Regions from separate parts of the Homo sapiens genome. Here regions 1, 2, 3, 4, 5 and 6 are each reported to be linked to region 7. Evidence: microRNA targets listed by miRTarBase, many of them from high-throughput screens and not tested one by one. Region 7 holds a microRNA gene; each other region holds the end of a gene's coding sequence. Distances are from middle to middle.
What was found. The annotated mature microRNA hsa-miR-197-3p reads UUCACCACCUUCUCCACCCAGC and lies in region 7 at 2,339-2,360, opposite strand. An mRNA with a match to its seed (bases 2 to 7 or 8) in the 3' UTR can be bound and repressed. Matches are read on the target gene's strand: a 7mer-m8 pairs with bases 2 to 8, a 7mer-A1 pairs with bases 2 to 7 and ends in A, and an 8mer does both.

Region 1: miRTarBase lists CLEC17A as a target of hsa-miR-197-3p. Seed matches in the 3' UTR shown: 7mer-m8 at 2,711-2,717.
Region 2: miRTarBase lists CDKL1 as a target of hsa-miR-197-3p. Seed matches in the 3' UTR shown: 8mer at 2,410-2,417 and 7mer-A1 at 2,850-2,856.
Region 3: the mRNA of AGR2 is a reported target of hsa-miR-197-3p. Seed matches in the 3' UTR shown: 7mer-m8 at 1,393-1,399.
Region 4: the mRNA of PLCB3 is a reported target of hsa-miR-197-3p. The part of its 3' UTR that is shown has no 7-base or 8-base seed match.
Region 5: miRTarBase lists VPS41 as a target of hsa-miR-197-3p. Seed matches in the 3' UTR shown: 7mer-m8 at 2,183-2,189.
Region 6: the mRNA of ZBTB40 is a reported target of hsa-miR-197-3p. Seed matches in the 3' UTR shown: 7mer-m8 at 3,576-3,582 and 7mer-m8 at 655-661.

What each region holds. Positions count from the first base shown.
Region 1 is chr19:14,609,685-14,613,750 of GRCh38, reverse strand. It overlaps CLEC17A (C-type lectin domain containing 17A), which reads right to left. Exons shown (of 14, transcript NM_001204118.2): 14 at 1,716-3,687. The coding sequence ends at 3,555. It also overlaps a transcript of ADGRE3 not described here. Among named protein-coding and RNA genes, the nearest start is that of SNORA104, 10 kb to the left of the region's middle.
Region 2 is chr14:50,326,455-50,330,514 of GRCh38, reverse strand. It overlaps CDKL1 (cyclin dependent kinase like 1), which reads left to right. Exons shown (of 10, transcript NM_004196.7): 10 at 334-4,060. The coding sequence ends at 441. It overlaps DMAC2L (distal membrane arm assembly component 2 like), which reads right to left. Exons shown (of 6, transcript NM_001382507.1): 6 at 2,558-4,060. Among named protein-coding and RNA genes, the nearest start is that of DMAC2L, 16 kb to the right of the region's middle.
Region 3 is chr7:16,789,426-16,793,491 of GRCh38, reverse strand. It overlaps AGR2 (anterior gradient 2, protein disulphide isomerase family member), which reads left to right. Exons shown (of 8, transcript NM_006408.4): 8 at 535-1,681. The coding sequence ends at 584. Among named protein-coding and RNA genes, the nearest start is that of AGR2, 14 kb to the left of the region's middle.
Region 4 is chr11:64,266,715-64,270,780 of GRCh38, forward strand. It overlaps PLCB3 (phospholipase C beta 3), which reads left to right. Exons shown (of 31, transcript NM_000932.5): 30 at 471-557; 31 at 639-1,209. The coding sequence ends at 842. BAD (BCL2 associated agonist of cell death) reads right to left here. Exons shown (of 4, transcript NM_032989.3): 4 at 3,116-3,623. The coding sequence ends at 3,495. It also overlaps a transcript of GPR137 not described here. Among named protein-coding and RNA genes, the nearest start is that of BAD, 16 kb to the right of the region's middle. RefSeq lists a silencer at 2,778-2,897 and enhancers at 3,348-3,777, 3,907-4,066.
Region 5 is chr7:38,722,484-38,726,536 of GRCh38, forward strand. VPS41 (VPS41 subunit of HOPS complex) reads right to left here. Exons shown (of 29, transcript NM_014396.4): 29 at 491-3,843. The coding sequence ends at 3,763. Among named protein-coding and RNA genes, the nearest start is that of AMPH, 93 kb to the left of the region's middle.
Region 6 is chr1:22,526,017-22,530,069 of GRCh38, reverse strand. It overlaps ZBTB40 (zinc finger and BTB domain containing 40), which reads right to left. Exons shown (of 18, transcript NM_014870.4): 18 at 1-3,868. The coding sequence ends at 3,674. Among named protein-coding and RNA genes, the nearest start is that of EPHA8, 35 kb to the left of the region's middle.
Region 7 is chr1:109,597,234-109,601,299 of GRCh38, reverse strand. It overlaps MIR197 (microRNA 197), which reads right to left and starts at 2,407; the gene lies at 2,333-2,407. It overlaps GNAI3 (G protein subunit alpha i3), which reads right to left. Exons shown (of 9, transcript NM_006496.4): 9 at 1,105-4,066.

The DNA of each region.
Region 1 (4,066 bases), not on the chromosome of region 7:
TCATGCCACTGTACTCCAGCCTGGGTGACAGAGTGACACTCCATCTCAAAAAAAATTTTTTTAATAACGAAATAAAAGAACAAGTAGATTTAAAACAAATCAAAGAAACAGGAAGTGAAATCAGCTCCGACCTCTCCCACCACCTGCTCTCCTCACAGTCTCCTTGCTATAAGCACCTGTTCTCAGACAAAACAGGAAAGATTCTGCTATTGATTAAGGGAGCTTATTGATCAATAAATTGATCGCAATCCTTGTATTTTAGGAGGCTGAAGCAGGAGGATTGTTTGAGACCAGGAGTTTAAGCCCAGTCTGGGCAACAAAGCAAGACCCCTGTCTATACAAAAAAAAAAAAAAATTAAAATTAGCTGGGTGTGGTGGGGGCACACCTGTAGTTCTAGTTATACAGGAGTCTGAGGACGGAGGATTTCTTGAGCTCAGGTGTTTGAGGCTTCAGTGAGCTATGATTACAACACTGCACTCCAGCCTGGGCGACAGAGTGAGACCTTGTCTCAAAAAATAAAATAAGGCCAGGCATGGTGGCTCACGCCTGTAATCTTAGCACTTTAGGGGGCTGAGGTGGGCGGATCACTTGAGGTCAGGAGTTCGAGACCAGCCTGGCCAACATGGCAAAGCCCTGTCTCTACTAAAAATACAAAAATTAGCCAGGCATGGTGGCACGTGCCTGAAATCCCAGCTATTCAGGAGGCTGAGGCAGAAGAACCAGTTAAACCTGGAAAGCAGAGGTTGCAGTGAGCCGAGATCACGCCGCTGCACTCCAGCCTGGGCAACAGAGCAAGACTCTGTCACAAAAAAAAAAAAAATAAATTGATTGGTTTGGAGAATGTCTACCCACCCTTGGATGCAATTCAGGGATTGTCCAAAGGGAATACTATGTTGAGTTATGCCTAGCTGGGAGTAGTACCAGCCCTCTAATTGGTATTTTTTGGTTGTCACATGGCCAGGGCAGGAGGGTCGGGTGGGGGTCACTCTGGCAGTTTGTGAATGTTATGGGCCAAATTGTGCCACCCCTCCCAAATGCATATGTTTAAATTCTAATTCCCAGGACCTCCTAATATGGCTGTATTTGGAGACAGGATCTTTAAAGTGGTCGTTGTAGGCCCAGCACAGTGGCTCATGCCTGTAATCCCAGCACTTTGGGGGACCAAGGTGGGCAGATTGCTTGAGCCTAGGAGTTCAAAACCAGTCTGGGCAACATGGTGAAACCCCGTTGCTACAAAAAATACAAGAATTAACCAGGCACGGTGGTGCACACCTGTAATCCCAGCTACTCAGGAGGCTGAGGCGGGAGGATGCTTAAGCCTGGGAGGTGGAAGTTGCAGTGAGCTGAGATCACACCACTGCACTCCAGCCTGAGTGACAGAGCGAGACCCTGTCTCAAAAACAAAAGAAGAGGAGGAGGAGATTAGGACCCAGACACACAGAAGGAGAACCAGGTGAAGACACAGGGAGAAGAGGATCATCTACAAGCCAAGACAGGAGGCCTCAGAAGAAATTAACCCTGCCAACACCTTGATCTTGGACATCCAGCCTCCGGAACTGTGAGAAAATGCATTCTGTTGCTGAAGCCACCCAGTCCTTTGTTATGGCAGCCCCAGCAAACTAACACACAGTAGACAAGGAACACCCAACATAGTGGCATTTTGAGAAGCACTAACATTGCAAGAGCTAATAGCCCAGGAAAGTCCACACAGAAGTAAAGTGAATTTTTATTTTTATTTATTTATTTGAGATGGAGTCTTGCTCTGTCACCCAGGCTGGAGTGCAGTGGCACAATCTCGGCTCACTGCAACCTCCGCCTCCTGGGTTCAAGCAATTCTCGTGCCTTAGTCTCCTGAGTAGCTGGGATTACAGGCACATGCCACCACGCCCAGCTAATTTTTTTGTATTTTTAGTAGAGATAGGATTTTACCATGTTGGCCAGGCTGGTCTCGAAATCCTGACCCCAGGTGATCAGCCCACCTCAGTCTCCCAGAGTGCTGGGATTACAGGCGTGAGCCACTGTGCCTGGCAAGTAAAGTGAATTATATCATCAAAGACGTTACAACCCACAGATAGCTCAAGGGCACGTGCTGGCAGATAGGTCCATCGTTGTCCTGTGTGGATATGACCAGGTTATGGCCTGCCTGGCCACACTATGTAGGGGTCTTGCTTTTCAGCTGGTATGCCTTTCTAGAAGTTCCATGGGCCAGCCAGGTGTGAGGGTGAACGCCTGTAGTCCCAGCTACTTGGGAGGCTGAGGCAGGAGGATCACTCGAGCCCAGGAGGCAGAGGGTGCAGTAAGCTATGATTGTGCCACTGCACTCCAGCCTGGGTAGTAGAATGAAACCCTATCTCAAAAAAAAAAAAAAAAAAAAAAAAGGATAGAAGTTCCACGGGCCAAGTCTTCTGGCAAAAGTCTGATTCTGCCACTTAGCTTGTGCAAACCTCACCCAAGACATTGAGAAAGTTGCTGGTCAAAAATAATTTTGATGGTTTCTGGGTTATTTGTGCTGTTTGAGACCAGGAAGGAAGCAGTGTCTGGAGAGGACGACATGGGGTGAATATAGAAGCTCTCCTGTCTTCTCCGCTGATGTTCTGTATTTTTAGGTTTGTAATTTGCAATGATGTGGGGACTACATGAGACCAGCCCACTTAATGTATTTCTGTGCGAGGCAGATCTAGAGGTCTAGCTCAAAGGGAAATTTTTCTGTCACCACTTTCAAAGCTTTTGTTTGGAAAAAAAAAAAAAAGGAAAAGATGGGGAAAGTAAAAATAAAAATAAAAATATCGGCCAGGTACGGTGACACATGCCTGTAATCCCAGCACTTTGGGAGGCCATCACGGAAGGATTGCTTGACCCCAGGAGTTTGAGACCAGCCTCGGCAACAGAGTGAGACCTCATCTCTATAAAAATAATAATAATAATTTTGAGCCAGGCACAGTGGCTCACACCTGTAATCCTCACAATTTGGGAAGCCCAAGTAGGAGGATCCATTGAGGCAAGGAGTTTGAGACTGGCCTGGGCAACATAGTGAGACTCCCTCTCTTTAAATGCTACAAAAAATTGGCCAGGCATGGTGGTGCGCATGTGTAGTCCCAGCTACTCAGGAGGCTGAGATGGGAGGATCACCTGAGCCCAGAAGTTTGAGGCTGCAGGAAAAGGAGCCCAGTCCCAGCTCTTTGTGGTTCACAGGCGCCAGGATATTTCATCCCAGGTTCAACACCAGCCCCAGGGTCCTCAGGGCTAGTATCACTTCCCAAGAGTCATGATCAGGAACTTAGTGAAGATCCTTTCAACCCCAGAAGTGGGAGACCTCCCACCACCAAGCTCTGAGCATCCTCCCAGCTCACCATCTACTAGGGCAAGCCCAAGTCCTCACTCTAGAAACAGCCTGACTTGCACCCCTGGGAACTTGCTGCATCCAGGGTGCCAATCCTGTTTGAGGCACATCTGTGTGTCCACTCACGAAGAGGCAAGGCCGTCCACGAAAGGGCAGGAGATTCTCATCTCAAAGAGACACTCAGATATGGACCCCCAGCCTCGGCCCTGGGCTTCAACAGGAACATTTCCGCTCACAAATCCAATACGTAGTTTTGTAGCAAGAGAGATCATTCCAGGTGCCACCTTTGTTCATGGTAGCACAGTCCTCATCGTGGATGTTATTGGGTTCCTCTGGCTCCCAGAAGCTGGATGGAGGAAAAAGTGGGCAGAGGGACAGGGATCTTTAGGGTGGTGAAACTCTTCTGTATAATACTGTAATGATGAATACCTGGCACTACGCATTTGGCAAAACCCATATTAGGCCGTGTGTGGAGCCTTACACCTGTAAGCCGGGCACAGTGAGCCACCGTGCCTGGCCCTTAATCAATTTCTGGTTTTGGGGGGTTTTTTGTTTTGTTTTGTTTTGTTTTGGAGACAGAGTCTCACTCTGTCGCTGAGGCTGGAGTGCAGTGGCGTGATCTCGGCTCACTGCAACCTCTGTCTCCTGGGTTCAAGCAATTCTCCTGCCTCAGCCTCCCAAGTAGCTGGGATTACAGGTGTCCACCACCACACCCGGCTAGTTTT
Region 2 (4,060 bases), not on the chromosome of region 7:
AGGCATTGGCTTAAATGATCCCTAAGATCTCAGCAAGCTCTCAACTCCTGTAAATCTATGTTTTCTTCCCAATAATGTTAACATGTAGATTTTCCCCTTTTCATATTCTCTAAATCTTCTTTAATGTGAATGTTTTTCCTTTTTAATATAAACATTTAAAAGGAAAAGCCAAGACGAAATTGAAACATTTAATCCTCTCTCAAGTCCTGGATTGTGTGCAAAAAAAGTACTTCTATACTAAAAAGCTTAATTACCTCTTTTGTGATATATTCTAAATAATGAAAAAAATGCATGGCACAGTTTTGAACCTAATTCTGTGTTTTGCATTTTTAGTTGCAGTACCTACCCCAGCTAACTGGCAGCAGCATCCTTCCAGCTTTGGATAATAAGAAGTACTACTGTGATACCAAGAAACTTAACTACCGTTTTCCAAACATTTAAAGGAGCTAGGAGACATGATTTTAAAAAAGGAATCAATAGATGCTTTGAAGAAAATAAAACTTATACAGTTGATTGAAAACAATTACAATGTTGAAAACACACCAGGAGAAAACATAAGCAAGAAACTGGGAGGCCAACTGGCAAGATATGAAGGGAAATTCCAGATCCAGTCTTCCATGCTTGATGATGGTGTCCAGAAAAGAAAAAACCTGTTTGGAGTTGCACTTGTATTTCAGTTTATGTAAGTAGCCGAACTTATGGACAGAATATGAACTGTCCCATACCTCTGGCAAAACTAGATGATATCAAAAAGATTTATGCTTCAGTTGTACCACATGCCACACAAGAAAAATGAACCACAAAATGCCCATATATATTTCCTCGGATCTCTGTTGCCTGAGTCCTATCTCCTGCCTCTCAGATTGTTTCAGCATCATATTTAAGATAGTTCTATTTCTTGAAATCAAAATGTTTAAAATCCCATTTCCTGCTTGCTCTATTTCTTGATTTTTATATTTTAAAACATTTTGAGGGTAACACTTAGGTTCAAAATATTTAAAAGCATATGAATTATCACAAAAGCTTGGTAATTTATAATTTAATTATATGTTTCCACATTTCATCCTTACTTTATCAGTAAAGGATACACCTTAGTCACTTTTGCAGGCAACGTGGATTTACTGTAATCTGTCTACATTTATTCACCCAATTCCCCTTGTAAACAATGGCATGAAGCTCGGCAGCTGATTAAGGCAGTCAAAGGGTAGAGCAAGACCTACAGGCTTTGCAGGAACTGAACCTATCAGCCTGAAAATAATTAGTATTTCATTCTCTCTGGCACAGCCTTTGACCTGGTACATCTATAGGCAAACCTGTAATTCAGTGATCTGGGTTTCAGAAGAAATTACTTGTGAGCTTTTACTTGAGTCATGAAAGACATTATGTTGTAAACTGATGTTTTCCCTGAAACATCTTTTTGCACTATGTTTGTATGTGTATGTATGTGTATGTATATATATATATATATATATATATATGCTATTCTAACAACTAATATATTACACTAAGTAGTCCAAAGTATTGAGGACTCATAGCTTTGCACAGTGAGACTTAAAATGATGACACACACACACATATATATATATGTGTTTTTTATATATATATATAAAACCTGCCACCTCAGCCTCCCAAGTAGCTGGGACTGCAGGCATGTGCCACTATACTGGCTAATTTTTTTGTATTTTTTGGTAGAGGCAGGGTTTTGCCATGTTCCCCAGGCTGGTCTTGAACTCCTGGGCTCACGTGATCTGAGCGCCTTGGCCTTCCAAAGTGCTGGCATTACAGGCATGAGCCACTGCGCCTGGCCAAAATGACATAATTAGCTTTGATTTGGTCTACTGCTCTTAATCAAAAAGCTTTTTCATCCTTGTCCCCTGGACACAAGGGCAATATGAAGCCTGACGTCTGTTTCTTACAGCTCAACACCATTTCTGGTTGATGTGCTGCCACTATTCCTAGCACTTCTCAGCCATGGTCTTCAAAGTTGTATTTCACTCTATTTTCAAAACATTTCTTCTGTACTCTCATTTTCTTCCTGTTAATTTTCTTCATGATGACATCTGACCCCATTTACTTAAGTAATCCACTGAGGTCTGGTGTCTACTCAATAATTTTGACTACCCTAGGCAGTTTAATGATATCCTAAGGCTTCCTAATGTATGTCTTTTCTTGCCTAGACCTGATATGGGTTAAATGCTAGTCCCTGAATTATTCAATTCCTGTTAGACGGCCTTGATTCAAATGACAAGGAAGAACATCCAGCTTCCGTGAATAGTTAAAAAAAAATTTTTTTTTCCTTAACCCAAGAAAATACACTTGACGGAGGCAGATTACTATAACAGCCTAATAATTCAGCCAATAGTTTTACCAAAAACTATTCAGAATAGAAAAGTAGCTCTAGACTAAATCGTGGTGAATCAGTTGTCTCACCATACAGTAATGAAACAAACCTGAGAAAAAAGGCTTATTTTTTTCTAATGAGTTCCGTTAAATTTATGCTTATGTTCAATTTAACCATATTTATAATGCTTTTATTCGGTATGAAATCTCCACTGTATCACATGAGACTCTTCCACATCCTTTTATTTACTATTTTCTGATTTTTAAAATGACAGTGGCAATTACCATTTATACTGTGTTATTTGTATAAGCTGTTAAACACAACATTGTTAAACACAACGAAAATTCATTTTTCTACCTGAAAGCTGTATCATAGAAAATTATTTTCAAGTTTATATTCAACAGCTTAATAATGTTCAAACCAGGCTGGGCGCGGTGGCTCCCAGCACTTTGGGAGGCCGAGGCGGGTGGATCCTGAGGTTAGGAGTTCAAGACCAGTCTGGCCAAGATGGTGAAACCCTGTCTCTACTAAAAGTACAAAAATTAGCTGGGCGTGGTGGTGGGCGCCTGTAATCCCAGCTACCTGGGACGCTGCGACAGAGAACTGCTTGAACCCGGGAGGCAGAGGTTGCAGTGAACTGAGATCACACCACTGCACTCCAACCTGGGCAACAGAGTGAGAGTCTGTCTCAAAAAAAAAAAAAAAAAAAAAAAAGTTCAAATCAAACACACAGAAATCTATAAACAAACTGGCATATAAGAGTAATAGAATCAGGGCCATTTCTCACAGGTAACAATGAAGACCTGTTTTATCTATTTTTCACTTTTTTTTTTTTTTTTGAGACAGGGTCTTAATCTGTTGCCCAGGCTGGAGTGCAGTGGTGCCAACATGGCTCACTGCAGCCTCGACTTCCCGGGCTCAACTGATCCTCCTACCTCAGACTCCTGAGTAGTTGGGACTACAGGCATGTGCCACTACACCCAGCTATTTTTTATTTTTTAATTTTTTGGTAGAGACAGGGTTTTGCCATGTTGCCCAGGCTCGTCCTGAACTCCTGGGCTCAAATGATCTGCCTGCCTTGGCCTTCAAAAGTGCTGGGATTACAGGCCAGCCCTTTTTTTTAAGAGACAGGGTCTCCCCCTTTCACCCAGGCTACCAGGCTGGTGTGCAGTGGCCGTGATCATAGCTTACTGCAGCCTCAAACTCCTGAGCTCAAGCAATCCTACCACCTCAACCTCCCAAGTATCTGAGATTACAGGTATGCACCACCATGCCTGCCTAATTTTTAAAATTTTTTTAGAGATGGGGTCTCACTGTGTTGCCCAAATTGGTCTCAAACTCCTGGTCTCAAGTGATCCTCCCACCTCAGCCTCCCAAAGCACTGGGATTACAGGCACGAGCCACGGCACCCAGCCTAAAGCAATGTTAGGTTTCAAGAAAAACCTAAGCATAGCCCACTAGTTTTTACTGTTTCCTTTATTATATTGCAATCTGCAAAACTATTTGTATTCAGCCAAGTATCTATGTCCAGTTTTAATAAAATAGTAGCCTAAGCTTACAAAATAGACAAATTAAGCAGCAACTGTTGATTCTGAGTAAGTCTGTATGCTATCAAGAACACAAGAATGCAGGATCATGGGAAATGCACGCAAATCCTGTTGAAGCAATGCATGCTTCAACAACCACTGACCACTTTGCATAATTGACTCCATCAATGAA
Region 3 (4,066 bases), not on the chromosome of region 7:
GGAAGTGAGGGTTGGAGATGAAGGATCTGGGAAGGAATGACTACACTAGAAAACTAGATTGTCACAAAAGCCATTTCATATAATTTTTTTAAATTACAATAAGATTACCAACTATTCACCTCATGATAAAAAGCATCCTATCAGGCTGGGCACAGTGGCTCACGCCTGTAATCCCAGCACTTTGGGAGGCCGAGGTGTGTGGATCACTTGAGCTCAGGAGTTCGAGACCAGCCTGGCCAGCATACCAAAACCCCATCTCTCCCAAAAATACAAAAATTAGCTGGGCATGGTGGAGCACACCTCTAATCCCAGCTACTCAGGAGGCTAAGGCTGAAGAATCACTTGAACCCAGGAGGCAGAGGTTGCACTGAGTGGAGATTGCACCACTGCATGCCAGCCTGAGTGGGAGTGAGACCTTGTCTCAAAAAAAAAAGCATCCCATTAAATAATGAATTGAGCATCCAAGTTTGGGGTTTATTATATCGATATAACGCACGATGGTGTCTTGACTCTCCTGCTTTTATCCCCCATTAGTGCTTGACAACATGAAGAAAGCTCTCAAGTTGCTGAAGACTGAATTGTAAAGAAAAAAAATCTCCAAGCCCTTCTGTCTGTCAGGCCTTGAGACTTGAAACCAGAAGAAGTGTGAGAAGACTGGCTAGTGTGGAAGCATAGTGAACACACTGATTAGGTTATGGTTTAATGTTACAACAACTATTTTTTAAGAAAAACAAGTTTTAGAAATTTGGTTTCAAGTGTACATGTGTGAAAACAATATTGTATACTACCATAGTGAGCCATGATTTTCTAAAAAAAAAAATAAATGTTTTGGGGGTGTTCTGTTTTCTCCAACTTGGTCTTTCACAGTGGTTCGTTTACCAAATAGGATTAAACACACACAAAATGCTCAAGGAAGGGACAAGACAAAACCAAAACTAGTTCAAATGATGAAGACCAAAGACCAAGTTATCATCTCACCACACCACAGGTTCTCACTAGATGACTGTAAGTAGACACGAGCTTAATCAACAGAAGTATCAAGCCATGTGCTTTAGCATAAAAGAATATTTAGAAAAACATCCCAAGAAAATCACATCACTACCTAGAGTCAACTCTGGCCAGGAACTCTAAGGTACACACTTTCATTTAGTAATTAAATTTTAGTCAGATTTTGCCCAACCTAATGCTCTCAGGGAAAGCCTCTGGCAAGTAGCTTTCTCCTTCAGAGGTCTAATTTAGTAGAAAGGTCATCCAAAGAACATCTGCACTCCTGAACACACCCTGAAGAAATCCTGGGAATTGACCTTGTAATCGATTTGTCTGTCAAGGTCCTAAAGTACTGGAGTGAAATAAATTCAGCCAACATGTGACTAATTGGAAGAAGAGCAAAGGGTGGTGACGTGTTGATGAGGCAGATGGAGATCAGAGGTTACTAGGGTTTAGGAAACGTGAAAGGCTGTGGCATCAGGGTAGGGGAGCATTCTGCCTAACAGAAATTAGAATTGTGTGTTAATGTCTTCACTCTATACTTAATCTCACATTCATTAATATATGGAATTCCTCTACTGCCCAGCCCCTCCTGATTTCTTTGGCCCCTGGACTATGGTGCTGTATATAATGCTTTGCAGTATCTGTTGCTTGTCTTGATTAACTTTTTTGGATAAAACCTTTTTTGAACAGATCTTTTGGCATTATTAATTTTTCCAGGGATATATTTTCAATCTTTTCTATCTCTCCTAGTGACTACTATCATTAGTAGGTGTTGAGCATATACTGCTGATTTAATGACATACAAATCTTCAGCAAAAATATCACAGGTTAATCAGCTCCCTTCTCACAAGTAGATAACTTACATGTGCTGAAAAAGGTAAAACATTCCATTTAAAAAGATCTCTGAGGGATAACAAGAGGAAAAAGAGGTTTCCCTTCCATAAACAAATATTTTAAATGACAAGTTCTAAGTGATTCAAGTTTCTCCTATAGTATAGCAAAATATTTTTTCATTGGGCGGACGTGAAATAAGGTTAACTTCTTAAAATGTATTGAATGGCAAAATATCTTAACACATACAAATACTTTTTAAATATAAATAAATATTTAGGAAATCAAATGTTACAGCTGTAAGGAAAATAAGTCCCCCTTTTAAAAGCATTGAAGAAACACAAAGCATGAGTCATTAATTGACTTTGTCCCATCAGTCTCCTCCACCACTGAGAATTTATCCTAAGGAAATCATTCAACAGAAACAGTTCTGTCAAGATGCCAATGGTAACATTATTTAAACGTACCACAGAAAAGCAACCTCCCAAAAATATAATGGCCACATGGTATATTAAGACAAAATGCAGTTTTTTAATCCTGTCTAGGTGAGTAGTCATAAAAATTCTTCTCTCCCTCCCCCTCCCCCTCCCCCTCCCCCCCCCCCCCCTCTTTCCACGGTCTCCCTCTCCCTCTCCCTCTATTTCCACGGTCTCCCTCTCATGCCGAGCCGAAGCTGGACTGTGCTGCTGCCATCTCGGCTCACTGCAACCTCCCTGCCTGATTCTCCTGCCTCAGCCTGCCCAGTGCCTGCGATTGCAGGCGGGCGCCGCCAGGCCTGACGGGTTTTCGTATTTTTTTGGTGGAGATGGGGTTTCGCTGTGTTGGCCGGGCTGGTCTCCAGCTCCTAACCGCGAGTGATCCGCCAGCCTCGGCCTCCCGAGGTGCCGGGATTGCAGACGGAGTCTCGTTAACTCAGTGCTCAATGGTGCCCAGGCTGGAGTGCAGTGGTGTGATCTCGGCTACAACCTCCACCTCCCAGCCGCCTGCCTTGGCCCCCCAAAGTGCCGAGATTGCAGCCTCTGCCCGGCCGCTACCCCATCTGTGAAGTGAGGTGCGTCTCTGCCTGGCCGCCCATCGTCTGGGATGTGAGGAGCCCCTCTGCCTGGCTGCCCAGTCTGGAAAGTGAGGAGCGTCTCTGCCCGGCCGCCATCCCATCTAGGAAGTGAGGAGCGTCTCTGCCTGGCCGCCATCCCACCTAGGAAGTGAGGAGCGCCTCTTCCCGGCCACCATCCCATCTAGGAAGTGAGGAGCTTCTCTGCCCGGCTGCCCATCGTCTGAGATGTGGGGAGCGCCTCTGCCCCGCCGCCCCGTCTGGGAGGTGAGGAGCGTCTCTGCCCAGCCGCCCCGTCTGAGAAGTGAGGAGACCCTCCGCCTGGCAACCGCCCCATCTGAGAAGTGAGGAGCCCCTCCGCCCGGCTGCCACACCGTCTGGGAAGTGAGGAGCGTCTCCGCCCGGCAGCCGCCCCGTCCGGGAGGGAGGTGGGGGGTCAGCCCCCCACCCGGCCAGCCACCCCGTCCGGGAGGTGAGGGGCGCCTCTGCCCGGCCGCCCCTACTGGGAAGTGAGGAGCCCCTCTGCCCGGCCAGCCGCCCCGTCCGGAAGGGAGGTGGGGGAGTCAGCCCCCCGCCCGGCCAGCCGCCCCGTCCGGGAGGGAGGTGGGGGGGTCAGCCCCCCGCCCGGCCAGCCGCCCCGTCCTGGAGGGAGGTGGGGGGGTCAGCCCCCTGCCCGGCCAGCCGCCCCATCCGGGAGGTGAGGGGCGCCTCGGCCCGGCAGCCCCTACTGGGAAGTGAGGAGCCCCTCTGCCCGGCCAGCCGCCCCGTCCGGGAGGGAGGTGGGGGGGTCAGCCCCCCGCCCGGCCAGCGGCTCCGTCCGGGAGGGAGGTGGGGGGGGTCAGCCCCCCGCCAGGCGAGACGCCCCATCCGGGAGGGAGGTGGGGGGTCAGCCCCCTGCCCGGCTAGCTGCTCCGCCGGGAGGGAGGTGGGGGGCTCAGCCCCCTGCCCGGCCAGCCGCCCCATCCGGGAGGTGAGGGGCGCCTCTGCCCGGCCGCCCCTACTGGGAAGTGAGGAGCCCCTCTGCCCGGCCACCACCCCGTCTGGGAGGTGTACCCAACAGCTCATTGAGAACGGGCCATGATGACAATGGCGGTTTTGTGGAATAGAAAAGGGGGAAAGGTGGGGAAAAGATTGAGAAATCGGATGGTTGCTGTGTCTGTGTAGAAAGAAGTAGACATGGGAGACTTTTCATTT
Region 4 (4,066 bases), not on the chromosome of region 7:
TGTCTGTACCAGTGTCCCTGGCTTTGGCGTCCTTGGGCCCAGTCCTCTCACAACCCTGATACATTGCCCTGGGAGCCTTCGCCCACCTGACTTCTTTTTCTTTGAGACAGAGTCTCACTCTGTCGCCCAGGCTGGAGTGCAGTGGCGCGATCTTGGCTCACTGCAACCTCTTGGGTTCAAGCAATTCTCTTGCCTCAGCCTCCCGAGTAGCTGGGATTACAGGCATCCGCCACCATGCCTGGCTAATTTTTTTATTTTTAGTAGAGATGGGGTTTCACCATGTTGGCCAGGCTGTTCTCGAACTCCTGACCTCAGGTGATCCGCCCGCCTTGGCCTCCCAAAGTGCTGGGATTATAGATGTGAGCCACTGCACCCGGCCTCGCCCACCTGACTTCTATACCCAGCCAGAGCCTCGAGGCTCTAGCCCCTCCCTCAGGGCCCCTCAGCTGAGCCCTTGCCCACCCCTGTAGCTGGAGGAGGCCCAGAAGCAGCGGCATGACCGTCTTGTGGCTGGGCAGCAGCAGGTCCTGCAACAGCTGGCAGAAGAGGAGCCCAAGGTGAGGCCATGGGCGAACAGGTGGGCAGACGGGGTGCAAGGCAGCCAGGCCTCGCCTGTGATGCCCATCCTTCTCCCACAGCTGCTGGCCCAGCTGGCCCAGGAGTGTCAGGAGCAGCGGGCGAGGCTCCCCCAGGAGATCCGCCGGAGCCTGCTGGGCGAGATGCCGGAGGGGCTGGGGGACGGGCCTCTGGTGGCCTGTGCCAGCAACGGTCACGCACCCGGGAGCAGCGGGCACCTGTCGGGCGCTGACTCGGAGAGCCAGGAGGAGAACACGCAGCTCTGAACTGGCTGAGCGAGGTGGCCACAGGGCCAGGGCGGGCGCTGGGTGGAGGGCAGGAGGCAATGACACTAATGCTTTTTTTTTTTTTTTTTAACTTTTTATCTAGAAATTTTATTTTTTTAAACCCGGGGCAAGTACCTCAGCTAACTCCCTTCATCCTCCTGGGGCCCCTCCTTCCTGCCCTCAGTCTTAGGTTAGGGCCTTGGTCAGGGCTTTGCTCCCTGTGACACCCACACCCTCGAGCTAGCAGCGTCTCCTCCCTTCCCCGGGAGAGCTGGCTGGAGACTTGGAGCTCCGGGAAGTAGGAGTCACATTTTTTTCTCTATTCTTTGGGGATTTTTTTTACATGAATAAAAGTGGATTTCAGGGACCCTGTGTGCAGTGTGATTTGGGGTGACAGGACTCTGGGCCCTAAGTTTCCTCATCTATAAAATGGACTTTGGGCATTTGGTGGGGTTGAGGTCACGCCTCCAGCCAAGGGCTGCTGGGTTGAACCTGAGCTTGCCCTGCCGAGTCTGCTGAGCTTCCGTGGCCTTCTGCTTGTGCCCTCTGCCCCCAAGCCGCTGTTCCTGTTCCCCCATCCCCATGACTTTCGTCTCTCCGAGGCTCTCCCTGTTCTCTCTTTTCTGAGGCTCAGGCCTCTGCTTCAGGAAGCCTTCCCTGCCCCGCTTCCTGTGGCCTGATATGACCCAAACGCCTAGTATCTTCCGCTGGGGCTGCTCTGGGCCCCCGACAGGCAGTTGACTCTATCAGGTGATGGATCGGCCAGGGTGGAGCAGGGCAGCTCAGAACCTGCCCAACACCGGGGGACCTGGGTCTTCAGAAATAGGTGGGCAGTAGGCCTGCCTGTGACTCTGGGGGAAGGGAAGTGGACAGTCACAGACACGCAGGGGCTGGGCCACCCAGCATCCCCTCATCCCTGTGAGGGAGATGTTATGCCTGTTTTACAGATGAGGAGACTGAGGCCCGGAGCCATCTGTCGTGTGCTAGGCCACAGCTAAGTCAAGACGTCCTGACCTGGAGGCAGGGCAGGCCTGGACCCTCCGTGGTGGACTGTCTTCAGCCAGCCTGGACCTGTCCCATGCCTCAAGACCAGCGAAAAGTGGCAGAGAGCCCACAGTGCGGGCTCCAGGGCGGGGCTGGGCTCGCAGCAGGGTCGGCTTGGCACCTCTTCAAGGCCTCTCCCAGCTTCCTGGCTCTTCCCAGGCTGCCCGCCTGCATCCCTCCTCCAGGGGAAGGCGGCCTCTTATCTGGGCTTATCTCCTGCCAATTGAGTATCTTCTTTGCTTTGTTTTTGCTGCAGCCTCAGGCAAACAGATGGGGTGGGGAGGCCAGGGAAACAGGCTCCGGAGTAGGGCCCTCCTCCCTCAGGGTCAATGCAATGGCCCCAGACTTCCTCACTTCTTCTGTGGGACGCTGCCCTATCCCCCAGTTCTGCTCACTCCAGTGTATTCCGTATCTAGGCTCCTCAGCAGCCAACTCCCACCTTCCTGACTCTAGCTGGTGTCCACTGAGGGACACACTCCAAGTCAGTTCCCAGGTCCTCAAATACCAGCTGAATGTCTAACTTCTGGGTGTGACATTCCAGCCCCTAGAAGCCTGGCCTCTGCTGCTCCCCTGTCCTTCCATGGGTCCACTCCTCCTTGCGCCGGGGGGGATGACCCTCACCTCACCTTCCGGTCGCAGCTCTAGCTGCCTCCTCCCTGAAGCCCTCTCTGACTGCCCTGCCGATTCCGGGCCCTCGGGAGCTTCCGCGAGCAGGGCCGTGGCGCAATGCATCTCTGTGCCCGGCACCAAGAACCGGCCCGGGTTATAGGGGGCGCCAATAAATCTTTCTGGAACGGAGCCCCCGCTCTGTCCGGGTCCCCGCATGAAGCCTCAGTTTCCAGCGACCGCGCTGCTGCCAGCCTGGCTCAGCCGCTCCCTCCCGCCCCGCGAGGTACCCGGGCGGCGCTGGCCCCGGGCCGGCCACACAGTAGCTGCTGGAAAGGGCTGACCCAAATAGGAGCGAGTGACCCTCTCTGGGGGGCCGCGGCACGGTTTGCAGAGCGCGGGATCGGGCTGCCGGCAGCGCTGCGGTCCCAATGCGCGTGCTGGGGACTTGGACCTGGGCCGCGCAGCCCAGGCCCGCGAGCCGCCGCGACCCCTTCCGTCTCTGTCGCTGGATGTCAGGCAGAGCCTAAGTTTCCCTCGTAAGACAGCGGCCTCTTTTGAAAGTATCCGTGAGAGCACTACCCCGGCCTGCCGGAGCCCCAGTCGACGCACAGAAAAGCCTCGGCGGCACAGACGCGGGCTTTATTAACATTTGGTAGTGAGCACGGCCCCCAGGGCATCGCGGGGGCTCGGGTCCCGGTGACGCAACGGTTAAACCTGGCTCGCGACTTAGCGCAGGCGCCTGGGGGAAAGCCCGGAGCCTGAGGGCGGGGCCACGGAGCCACTTCCGGCGGCTGTGGGCGGAAAACCCAAAACTTCCGATGGGACCAAGCCTTCCGTGGCTTCACACGCACCGGAAGGGAATCTGGGTCAGCCCTCCCTCCAAAGGAGACAGCACGGATCCTCTTTTTGCATAGGCCTGAGGGAAGTACTTCCGCCCATATTCAAGATGGCTGCCCAGGGCAGTGGGAACGGGTGGAGTTTCGGGATGTGGAGCGAAGGTCACTGGGAGGGGGCGGAGCTTCCCCTGCCCAAGTTCCGATCCCACCAGGACTGGAAGACTCGCGTCCAGCTGGAGCTTTGCCGCATCTGCGTTGCTGTGCCCGCGCTCTTCGGGCGAGGAAGTCCCTTCTGGTGGAGGGAGAAAAGGGTTACATGAGTTAGATTACCATGGCAGCTCGAGCCAGGCTCTCCACTTCCGTGAGCCTTCCTCTAAGTGAGATCGGGGGGGAGATAATGAAGGCCACAACTCCCAGGAGGCTCCACGCCGGGCGGTCAGGGACGCTCGCGAGGACGCATGGGCCCCCAGGAATGGGAACTGGTTAGATCCCAGGAACTCCGTGCCGGAGACGGGAAGAGAGGATGCCTAGGGCCCTAAATGGAAAGGCCAGAGCTGGAGACCTAGCACCCAGAAGATGAGACCGCAATTCGAGAATCAAAGGGCCGGGAGCGATGGTGAGCGCCTGTAATCCCAGCACTTTGGGAGGTTGAAGCGGGAGGATCCTTTGAGGCCAGGAGTTCCAGGCTGCAGTGAGCCGTGATCGCACCACTGCACTCCAGCCTGGGCGACAGAG
Region 5 (4,053 bases), not on the chromosome of region 7:
TATTCTAAGAGTGGATTTTGCTTTCTATCCACTGACCAAAACAGCTCAAATAAGTATGTTTTAACAACAAAAAAATCAAATATGCACCAGTTAAGATCAGGCACTCTGAAGGCAACTGCATGGGTTTGAATTTCAGCTAGGTGTTCCACTATCAGCTACCTGACCCTGGACAAGTTACTTAACCTTTACGTGCTTCAGTTTCTTCATCCATAAAATGACGATGATGGTAATAACACCAATTTCATAGGGATACATTAATATAATTAAATAGTATAAGCAAAGTGCTTCTAATAATTCCTAACACATAGTAATTACTCAATGCATGTTTGGTTTTTAATATTAAAATACAGTAGAACCTTGAACAATGTGGGGGATGAGGTGCTGACACCCCATGCAGTCAAAAATCCACGTATAATTCCCCCAAAACCTAACTACTAATAGACTACTGTGGACTGGAAGCCTTACTGGTGACATAAATAGACCATTAACACATATTTTATATTTTATTTATATTATATGCTATATTCTTATAATAAAGCAAGCTAAAGAAAATAGTAAGAAAATCATAAGGAAAAGAAAATATATTTACTACTCATTAAGTAGAAGTGGATCATCATAAGTGTTTCATCTCTGTCGTCTTCATACTGAGTAGGCTGAGAAGGAGGAGGAAGGGGAGGGCCTGGTCTTGCCGTCTCAAGGGTGGCAGAGGCAGAAGAAAATCCATGTATAAGTGGATCCTTGCAGTTCCAACCTGTGTTGTTCAAGGGTCAACTATATATAGCTTTACATTGTAACAACAGCAAAATGAACTACAAATCTGTTGGAAACTTCTCAAAAATTCTCAAGGATGAACATAATTAAACCAGTATGAAATCCCTTTGGCTAAAAACAAAAGCAAACTAAAGTACTCCAAAATAATTTTGCACCTGGCTGTTTTACACTTCAAGAATAGCTTTCTTGGCTGGGCATGGTGACTTACGCCTGTAATCCTAACACTTCGGAAGGCCGAGGTGGGCGGATTCCTGAGCTCAGGAGTTCGAGACCAGCTTGGGCAACATGGTGAAACCTCATCTCTACCAAAGTACAAAAAATTAGCTGGGCATGGTGGTGCGTGCCTGTACTCCCACCTACTCCGGAAGCTGAGACGGGAGAATCACTTGAACCTGGGAGGCGGAGGTTGCAGTGAGCCAAGATCATGTCACTGCACTCCAGCCAAGGCAACAGAACGAGACTCCATCTCAAAAAAAAAAAAAAAAAAAAAAAAAAAAAGAATAGCTTATGAAGTGTGTACTTTGCAACTATGTTCTTCCCCAAAACGAGGGGAATGGGTTTCCTTTTTACCTATATTTTAAATTGGGCTAGTCACACATGAAAAATAATTGACTAACACTTGGATTATTTTGCCATATTTAAGCCCTTATAGGTTGATGAAAAGTAAAAAGGATTGAATATCCTTTAATAAATCACCCAATACTGTTTATTCAAAAGAAAAGACATTCTAAGGAACGAAAGCTAGTGTTTTTTATTAACGATAAAATCTATATTGTTCAGGAATTTTCCAGTGTGTTACAGCAATTTCTGAAATGATAAACGAACATATTTTATTATTTTCCTTTTAAATCAGTTACTTAAAAATGAAGACTGTTTAATTATTTTCTCCTTTTCTATAAGTAGGATTTTCTTTATGTCCAAATAGGACTTGGTAACTAGGATAATTTACCCCTGAAGCAAAATGACTTCACTGAAATTAGCAAATCCTATTGATGATCTTAAAGTAAACTTTTCTGGAAATGAGCTTGCTCAAATCATAAGTGAGGATTAATGTAAATGTAATAAACTGAATCTGTAAATTGGTAATGTTGAAAAGAAAAAACAATTGGGTAAGAACAAAACTGAAAACTAGCAGTGTAGCAGAAAGCACACTAGTCTTGGGATAAGGAAATGCTGAGAAGGCTGAGGGGTACATTCAATAATAACAAAGAGCCTTCCAGTTCTAAGTATTTGTGACTAACAACAACAAAAAAATCTGTTGTTTGCTAGAGAATTCTTAACTCTAATGTGAAGATATGTTCTGTGCATTTCCTTTGAACTTGGCCCTATGATTTCTTTTCTTTTCTTTTCTTTTTTGAGACGGAGTTTTGCTCTTGTTGCCCAGGCTGGAGTGCAATGGCGCGATCTCAGCTCACCACAACCTACGTCTCCTGGGGTCAAGTGATTCTCCTGCCTCAGCCTCCTGAGTAGCTGGGATTACAGGCATGTACCACCACGCCTGGCTAATTTGTGTTTTTAGTAGAGATGGGGTTTCTCCATGTTGGTCAGGCTGGTCTCGAACGTGCGATCTCAGGTGATCCACCTGCCAAGGCCTCCCAAAGCCCTGGGATTACGGGCGTGAGCCACCATGCCCGGCTGGCCCTGTAATTTCTTAAAGGGATCAGAAGCCCTGCTCTGAAGTTAGGCAGTCACCTCTGTGACCTCAACAACATCTCTACATTTTGCTTTCTTTATCTGTAAACCTAGGTTTATCAGATCTTCTTCCTGGCGACGCTGTGACAATTAAATGAACTGCTGCTCATGGGAATGGCTGGGTGACTTCGGTAGCTGGCATGCTGTCAGTACTCACTAGCACCCTGTCCTTTCCCCAAAAAGAAAGAAGCAGAAAGCTGTATTTGTTCCCATTTATGGGACTAAGAGATCAGGAACAATAAGGATGTGTTTTGCGCACTTTTACACTCATTAGAGGATGACCATATATCCCAAGGAAGATGAAGCCAGTAACTGTAAGACACAATTACAAGTTTGACTTTTCTCCCTCTATGATATGCTCTGTTCCATGAGGGCAATGGAGGCACCAGAGAAGGCAAGAGGAAACATCATTAGTCCGTCCTTCAGCATCAGGTGGTCCCACTGCTCCTGAGGCACCCTCAGTTTTCAGGGTCACTGGTTTCCTCCCTCCTGGCAAACTCTAGCCACAAGCGCTCAGACTCGAAGGTGTTGAACTCTCTTTTCTTCCTTACAAGGGTGCCAGAATTCTTAACTGCATTTGTTTATCCCAGTAAAAGTGAGTCCTTCACAATGAGAAGAGCTAACATTTATTCAATCAACAAATGCTGAGTGTCCGCCATGGCCAGATACTCTTTGACAGTCGTCACAGCACACAGAACATGTGATTAGTAAACATAATGGTGCAGGACATCAGCCTGCTAATGTTATTCCCAGGTGTCATCAAATGAGTGACAATTTGTACAATGTTTCATTAAATGCCTATTTAGAGGATAACCATAGTTGATGACACAGAAAAAAGCCAAACCCAGAATGCAAGAATCGTAGCCAGCAGAGCACGTGGAAACAACGTCCAAGTTGCAGGTAGCAGCTTGCAGGATAACCACAGTTGGCGACGCTTTCAGGCAGCTGGGAGAATTCTCAGTTGTCCATTTTATGGTTAAATGGTTTTACTAAGGTCTAAAAAATTCATTTCTAACTCCTAGACTTATGTTTCCATTACTATATAAAGAATGAGCCAAACAAATAAATAACAAAATATTCACTATGGACCCCAAAATTTCAAGGCATGAAGAGAGCCCCAAATTCTCTGTGAACTGCAAAGAGAAACCATTAGTACAGGAATAGATGAAGAAATTGTTTTTGAGTATAATATAAACATAAACAAATCTCTTAACAGCACGAGTGTCAACAAATGCTTTTGTTGTTGCAAAAACAGTCTCAAAAAGAGTGGTGACAAGGAGACTGACAAGGAGAAATGAGCTATTTTTTCATCTCCAAAATTGCACTTCCTGGTCCACGGTTCTTAGCACTGCAGATGTTGCAGAACTGTGCAGCAGAGTTCTAAAAATGCAATTTAAAAACACATATTTAAAAAATGATCTTCTTTTTCTACTCTCATATTCAGAAACACTAAGGTAGCGTTAGTCAGGGGGTGGAGAGGAAGTAATAGGATGGCACTCCTTTCTCTGGAGTTTATTTCTGGTTAACATAGGATTTAGTCTAGATCAGCTGTTACTCTGTGACTCCAAGGACACCCAACAGCAGAATACG
Region 6 (4,053 bases), 87 Mb from region 7:
GCAGCTTCCAGGCACGTGAGGTTTAAACACACACCCGCCACCCCATTAGCCTGTCTTCAGCTTGTGGTGACCACGTCACCAGCCCCCAGGTGAGAGACGAACTCTTAGGGCCCTTCTCACCATTCTCCTTCCTTTCTGGGAGTCCCTGATTGATCCCGCAAATAAAGGGCAGGGACCTGTCTCCCCACTGTCTGTCTGACTGGATTTCTTTTCACCCCTCAGCCCCGATTATCAGAACTCTAGCCCGAGGCATGAAGCTGACATGCCTTCCGTGGTCAGTGGGAAGTCAGAATGCTTCCTCAGAGGAGACCTGGATTGCCAGGGAAACCTGGTACTCACACTGCAGACCCTGCTACTCACTGGGCTCAAAGTTTCCCAAACACAGAGCTTCTGAGACAGAAGAGAGAGGCTGTCTCTTCATGTCTCTTTACCCATAAAATAAATGAGTAAAGACCCCTGGTCCCTGCCCCTCTGGTTCCAGGTTCTGCTCATGCGCGTGGACAGTAGGAGTCTCACCTTCCCGCAGTAATCCTTGCTCTTGAATCATCTATTTGCTGTCTCACTTACCTATGATGGGCAAGTCCTGTTCCATAACTGACCCCAGTATTCCCACAGAATCACACTCCAGCCTGGAATCTGACTGCCTTTCCCTCCTCACCACCTGGGCCATGAGCTCTGGGAGCAGAGGTCTGGGGACCCACCGAACAGATCCATGTGTTCCAAGAAGCCCACAGACTCCTTCACACCACCCCAAAGGCCCCAGAGTTCAGTCCAGAGGCCATAAGGGCAGCAGCCTATGGGGAACGAGGCAAAAACAACACCGGGACCCCATGGAAGCGAGCGATGTGGACTCAGGAGACCACACAAACACTGTCCTCTATGGCAGCAATTCAGGTCTCTTGGGCAGAAGTAGGAGAAAAGGATAAAATGGCCAAGCAGAGTCAGAAAGTTTTCCTATAAGATCCATGCCTGGGCTTCTCTAGAGAGCAAGACTATAAAATCAGTCAGCCAGTGCGGAGCCCACTCAGAGCAGACAGTAAACTCGGGAAGGGCCTTCCCCTCTTTCTTGATGAGAACCAGCACTGGGTTTGTGCCTTCTGCTGAGTGTGCCATGGGCCAGAGGGCATCTGATGGGCCCCGGCAGCCAGTCCACTCTCGGCACAGTAAGCTGCAAATCTGGTGATTCCGAAGAAAACAAATGTCTTGTCACAATCTGGGTCTCCAACAGAAACCTGGCCAGGCGTAGTGGCTCATGTCTGTAATCCTAGCACTTTGGGAGGCCCAGGTGGGAGAACTGCTTGAGCTCAGGAGTTTTAAACCAGCCTGGGCAACATGGCGAGACCCTGTCTCTACAAAAAAAAAAAAAAATACAAAAACTGGCCAGCAGTGGTGGCTCACGCCTGTGGTCCCAGCTACTTGGGAAGCTGTGGCAGGAGGATTGCGTGAGCCCGCAGAGGTTGCAGTGAGCCAAGATCGTGCCACTGTGTTCCAGTCTGGGTGACAGAGCAAGACCCTGTCTCCCCCAAAAAAAGAAACCTGAGAAAGAATTTCTCAGTGCTTGAAAGGATCTGACACTGGAATTCAAAATTTACAGCCCTCTTTATTCCGAAGAGTTTTTTTTGTTGTTGTTTGTTTTTTCTTTTTAAATCACTTCCCTATAAGCCCTCAGCAATTATTTCTAGTTTTGTTTTGGAAGAAATTTTAATGACATTCACTGCAACTCCCAAGCCCCATCCCACAGCTTGTGAGGGGCTGGATTCTCATCCACTGGACTTGGCACCAATGCCCTGTAAGCATGTGCCACTCTACGATCTTTCAGTGGGTTTTCTCTGCTGCCAAGGGGATATTCAGTGCCATTTTGCCACCTGCAGATCAAGAGCTCTCCCAGACTGACAGTTCCCAGGACGGAAAAGCCTTAATACAGGCACAGCCTTGGTAGAAACAGTGAGCCCTTCACATGGAGATGAAGTCTTAAAGGTTTGAGCACCATCTTCTGGTCAGTTTTTGGCTTCTGAGGCCGACTCTGCTTTAGAAACTTCATTTATTTCAGAATGGCAGAACCCTAATTGACAAGCTCAAGTGATCTGCGTATCAAAATGTGGACAGGACCAGAAGCAGGTGTAGTCGGCTGGGATGAGCTGTCCCAGGCTGGCCGGAGCTGGCGCTCGCTGTGGAAACCGTCGGGGCTGCCTGCACAAAGCCGGCAGATGCCAGTCAGTGGGCGTGCTGGTCAGTAAGGCTGTGCCTTCTGCGCTTCAAGCAGGGTGAGACCTGACCATGTGGGAGCAATAAAAGCTTCCATGGTGACCAAACGTGACTCCTGCCTCTGTACATGGCAATGTGAGATGTGCCTGGAAGGAAGGGGTGGCCCCATCTCTGCCAGTGTGGGATCCAACCAGGCACTCCCCTCCACAGGGGGTCAAGCCACACAAGGTGGCAGACAGCCCTGCCTGGTGTGTAAACACCGCACCAGCAGACTCCAACCTTTGGCATGGAAGGAAAAGAAGATAAATGCTAGTCATTCTCTCCAAACGGCAGGAACCTACATCTATCTAATTGCACTTCATAATGGATTCCACAAACCATTAATTATCAGATTATATTTTAGGAACTGAAGATAAAAAAAGCTTTGTGAAATTCAAACTCCAAAGGATCACTGACCTGCAATAAGTGTGGCGGCCTGCGGGAGGTGAGGCAGCAGGCCACTCACAAGGCAGGGAGTGGGCGGCAGCAGAGCCACGGGCAGTCACGGCTGCTCCTCCACACGCAGACAGGACTGCCTGCCTGGTGCTGGTCACAGTCTGCACCATATGACCCAGAGGGAGCCAGGCTGCCAGGTCAGGCAGAGATTTCAGCCTTTGATTAAAGGAAGGGGATGAAGATGACACGGAAGAGCTGTGGGAACCAGGCTTCAGGTAAGGAATACCAAGAAGAATGTCCTGGAAAGGCAGACACTGTCTAGCAGCTGATGCCTCACATTAAACACTTCCAGCAGAAACTCCAGAGCTTTGTTTTGGGAAGAGCTGACAACTGACAAGGGGTTATCAGGCATGGAAATGAGGGCTACCTGTCCTATAGCCATCAATAGGGTGCTGGGCGTGGCCACTGGGTGGAGGGGGAACCCCAGCAGAGGGTAGGATGATAGGACCGAGGAAGGGGCCAAGTGTGCCTCAGGAAGGGGCCTAAGGTCCCCGAATTGTCTGTTGGTGCCCCTCTCACTTTAAATGGCCAGAGGCAGTGGCAGCATTTGCAGCCCCCACTGTGGGCCAAGTCCCATATCTAACTGCCATTCTGCCCACTGAGCGCTGTCGGCACATCATGCCTCCTGGGGTACCCTGGTCACCAGCTCCCATCCCACTGCTCTTTCAGACTCTACTTCTGAAGCCACATGTCACTTGGGGATGGACAGTGTCATAGAGGCCGCAGCAGCGGGCCTGTGGGGAGGGAGGCCTGTCTGCTACAGAGGATGGTGCTGTTGGTGTTGAGGGCTCAGATGCTGTTGGTTCTATGAGAACAACGAAGCTTCCATCTGTTTTCTAGGTGAGACTGTGTTGGTTGGTGCTAAGCTAAGATGCTCACCACTCAGGACAGCCAGGGATGGAGGGCAAAGGGCAAGCTGTGGGGCCTCCTCTCTGCTGCAAACGCAGGAAGGCTCTGCCGGATGAAAGGCTGCTCATTTGGCCTCACCACAGATCAGCGTCACTGTGCCATCCAGCAAGTCCTCCACAGTCACCGCCACGAGCTCAGAGCTGGCCTGAGATGCCTGAGAATCTGGCAACGTCACAAACACCTGCGACCCGGCAAGCTGGGTCTCCTCCAAAGTGATCACCTGCTCTGTCGGGGCCACCGGCTCTGGGGTTTGGATCACCTGAAAGAGAAAGACCGTGAGGCTGCTCTGGGCAGTGTTCACAGTTGGCTCCCTGATTTACATGGTTTTCATCTCATGCTGTAATGATGATATTTATGTTTTCACCTGAGGAGAGCACTTACATGTGCCTAATGGGAAGAGGCAAGTCTAACCCACTGGCGATGCAAAAGAGAAGGCCAGCAAAC
Region 7 (4,066 bases):
TTTAACTCAACATACAGGAGTTCTGAATCTGTTTTGTATCATGGATCCTTCCGGCAATCTGATGAAACCATGTGCCTCTTTTCATCATCATATTTTTAAACACGTAAAATTAAATTCAGAGAAATACAAAGAAAACTAGCATATCAAATAGTCTCTCTGTAGACTCGCTGGAGCTCTGAAGCCCCAGGTTAAGAACCCTTACTATACAAGCTATGATCTTGTCTATTCAGGCCCCAAACATAATTTATCCCATTTATTCCATCTCCAAATAGGATAGCCCTACTTTCCCTCAAATAGTACCAGATTGTTGATTATTTTATTAACTTTTCCTTGGTCTTTCAATCTAGGTATAAATTGGTTATTGACCAAACTATAAGTCTAACTCAGGATCCTTGGTTATTAATGTTCACACAGAACCTGCCTTATAGTACTAGTACAGAAGCAGAGCCAGTGGGACAGGTCTTCTGACAGGTCTTAGGTCAGAACACAAGTCTCTAGCAGACTAAAACATGGTTGTATTTAGTCCTCTTCTTTTGGGATAGCTGGGGGATATCCCAACTTTTAACTGGTTTATCAACAAACTCACACAAGCCACCTTGTACAAACATTATGTAAAGTGTTCATCTTGGAGGATAGAGCAACATTCTATAGCTGTTTTTTTACTGAGTTTGGGATCTGCCTATATTCATCTTATGATGTTTTCAAGCTAAAACTCTTCTGGCAAGTCTACATGAAATGCAACAGGGGCCCTTGAGCACCCATTCACCTATTACCTTAGAACACAGTCAGAATAATTTTCTCAAACCCTTGGTCCAGAATGGGCTCTCCCATGATTAAAGGTAAGAGGACTTCACCTCGATGCTCTTGATAGGCTTCCAGAAAAGGCATTCACCCTTACCCTAGCTCAACTGTTTGTCAGGCCCAACGATTGTTCCCAAACCTTACATGTTAGAGCTGCAGAAAAAGTGCATTTGTACTTTTCCTGCACAATTAGCTTATTTTTATCTCATGGACATTTTGATTGTATTCATGAAAAGTTCTTATATAAAACAGCTATAAGAAAGATTAAAATAAAAATTAAGTCATTATCTTTCTTTTGCCTCATTTTAAATTTACACCGTACTGTTGAATTTTTATTTACTTTAAGCCATCAAGTTTTTTTTTTTTTTGTAACCAGATCAGAAACAAATATTTAACCCTATTTTCTGGCATGCAACCTTAATTCTTAAGACTGCTAAAGTTAGAACAAACTTAAAAATAGTCCAGCCCCATCACTAGCAATTTATAGATCAAAAACTGAAGCCCAGGAAGGAAGAGTATCTTCATCAAGATCACAACGCTAGGCAGTAGCAGAACTAGAACTCCAGAACAGGTCTTCTCAATCCAAAGCCTGTGATGATGTCCAGCTACCAACAGAGCACCATACACTATAAAATCAAAGCCAATTTCTTGTTCTTCTAAGCTCCTCCCATTCCCAACCAAATTCTTGGTCATTTTTTCATTATGCCGTCTCTAAATCGTGGACATTTAACAAAACCACCTCCAAGCTAAGACAAATAGATCTCAAAATAGAATATGAAAACAGCATAAAATCACAAAAATATAACTAAGTTTGCTTGTTTGTTGAAGGTAAAATTTCCTCTTCATATTCTTAGAGGGAGAGACCATAATGTACTTCCCTAGCATAGCATGATTAAAGAGACATTACTAACAGTAAATCAAATGTAAATTACGTTACATTTCACATAAATCTGATAGTTTTCCTTTTTTAGACAAAAATACAATATGATTGACACAAAAGGACAAATACTATGATTCCACTTATATGAGGTATCTAAAATAGTCAAATTCATAGAGACAAAGGAAAATGCTGGTTACCAGGGGCTGAAAGAAGGTGGGGCATGGGGAGTTACTGTTTAACAGGTACAGAGTTTCAGTTCAGGAAGATGAAAACAAGTTCTGGAAATGGATGGTGGTGATGGCTGTGCAACAGTGTGAATGTACTTAATGCCACTGAACTGTACACTTAAGATGGCAAATTTTGTTATATATGCTTTATCACAATTTTAAAAATAGAAAAAATATACTATAATTAGAAATTTGTATTTCTGTGGATAAAAGGAAGAATGGATAAAAGCGGCACAAAAGTTGTCTTAAAAGCAACATAAAAGACACATTAACTTGAAACAGTTCCTACTCTGGTAATAAAATCCACTCACATGTACCTCCAAATAGTCCAAAACAGAGTATTCCTTCCCATCCCCACGGTGAGACATAACAGCATTCAAAACCCACTCTATACTTGGAGATGTGCCGTAGACCAAAGTGTGCCGGCCATGCTGGGTGGAGAAGGTGGTGAAGGGTGAAGAGCTCTTACCTCCCACTGCCCTCTCTACCCGGCACAGCCCCCAGAGCACAGATTCCAGAAGGATTTCGGTGTTGGGCCAGGGACTGCAAGTGTGACAGAGCCTCTGGTGGTCCTGCTAGGTAAAAGCATGAAAACATTTCTGTGAGGTCAGAAGACACTGGAGACTGCAGAAGGGAACTTTTCTGTCTTTTTGCCATGAAAAAGCACTAGTATAAGCAGAAAATAGACAGCTGGATTTAAATGTAAAACAAAGCAAAGACCTTTTCACCCTGCTTCACGAATTTTAGAGCAATTTATAGTTCAACTTCATTTCAGGTCTTCAAAATGAATATGGGCAAAGTAATGCTGTAAAAGACCACCCACTACGTTGAATACCTTTGTTGGTGCTGCCTTAGGATTTTTTTTTTTCTGTGCAGTATAATCCTGAGTATCATAACATTTACAAAGCATTTTCAAATATGTTATTTCTATCTGATGAGAACCACAGAATATCACAGCAGGAAGGAATAATTTAGTCCATCTTTAGATAACAGATGAGTGATTTAAGACTGAAAGAATACACAAGATTCCATAGCTGGTTGGAAGCAGAGACAAGACCAGAACCCAGCATTCCAAACAACTCTCCAACCTCGTAAGATTCTGAGAGGTCTCAGGACCTTTATCCTACATGAGCAAGAATAAACAGAACAGGTGATTTCTTGTGTTTTGTTGTATCTACTGGAAATCTCTCTTACATATAAATAAGCATCTTAGTAAAAATGTCTGGATAACCTAAGGAGAATTTTGGGCGTAGGGAGAGGTAAAAGATAAGAGGAGACAGATAAACCAGGTTGTTCATAATTTAATATTCCTGCTGTCACAGATTTTATAGCTTAGTGAATGCTGGTACACTGAGATACTTCTATCCCAGCAGTGTATTAATATTTATTATTTGATTATTTCTGGTACCTTGTGATTCTCACTAGATTTCAGGAAAACACTAGCACTGGGCATACAAAGGCTTTTACATGTGACTCAATCATTCCCCTTATATACCCCCGTACCCATTTCAAAACGACTTTCATTCTAGTTTAGAGCTAGCTAGCTTTGCTTTCTCTACCAAGTGTAAATAAATATTCATGTTATTACATATACTGTTATCTGTCACAGGGTTTTATCTTTAATTTGGTGTATCTTTCAATTTTCACTGCATAAATAAATGCAGTAAAATAAATGAAATGAATGTTTGGACATCCTAGGTTTCTTGTTGTCTTAATTTTGTATAAAACTAAATACTCTGTATCCAAAGTGTAGGAATGTTATGTGACCCAACAGTTTTCAATAATTTTCTTGGTGGAAGGCACTTTAAGTCATGTACAAATGGTACTTCTTATTGGCAAAAAATAGATCACTCACTAGTGATTTTGAGCTTATTTGTGCACTGAAGTTGCTTATTTTCAATATTTGTGTTGACTTTAAAAAAAAACAAAAAAAAAACAGACTCACTCTGTCGCCCAGGCTGGAATTCAGTGGTGCGATCTCGGCTCACTGCAACCTCTGCCTCCCAGGTTCAAGCGATTCTCCTGCCTCAGCCTCCCGAGTAGCTAGGATTACAGGCATCCACCACCATGCCTGGCTAATTTTTGTATTTTTAGTAAAGACGGGGTTTCACCATGTTGGCCAAGCTGGTCTCAAACTCCTGACCTCAAGTGATCTGCT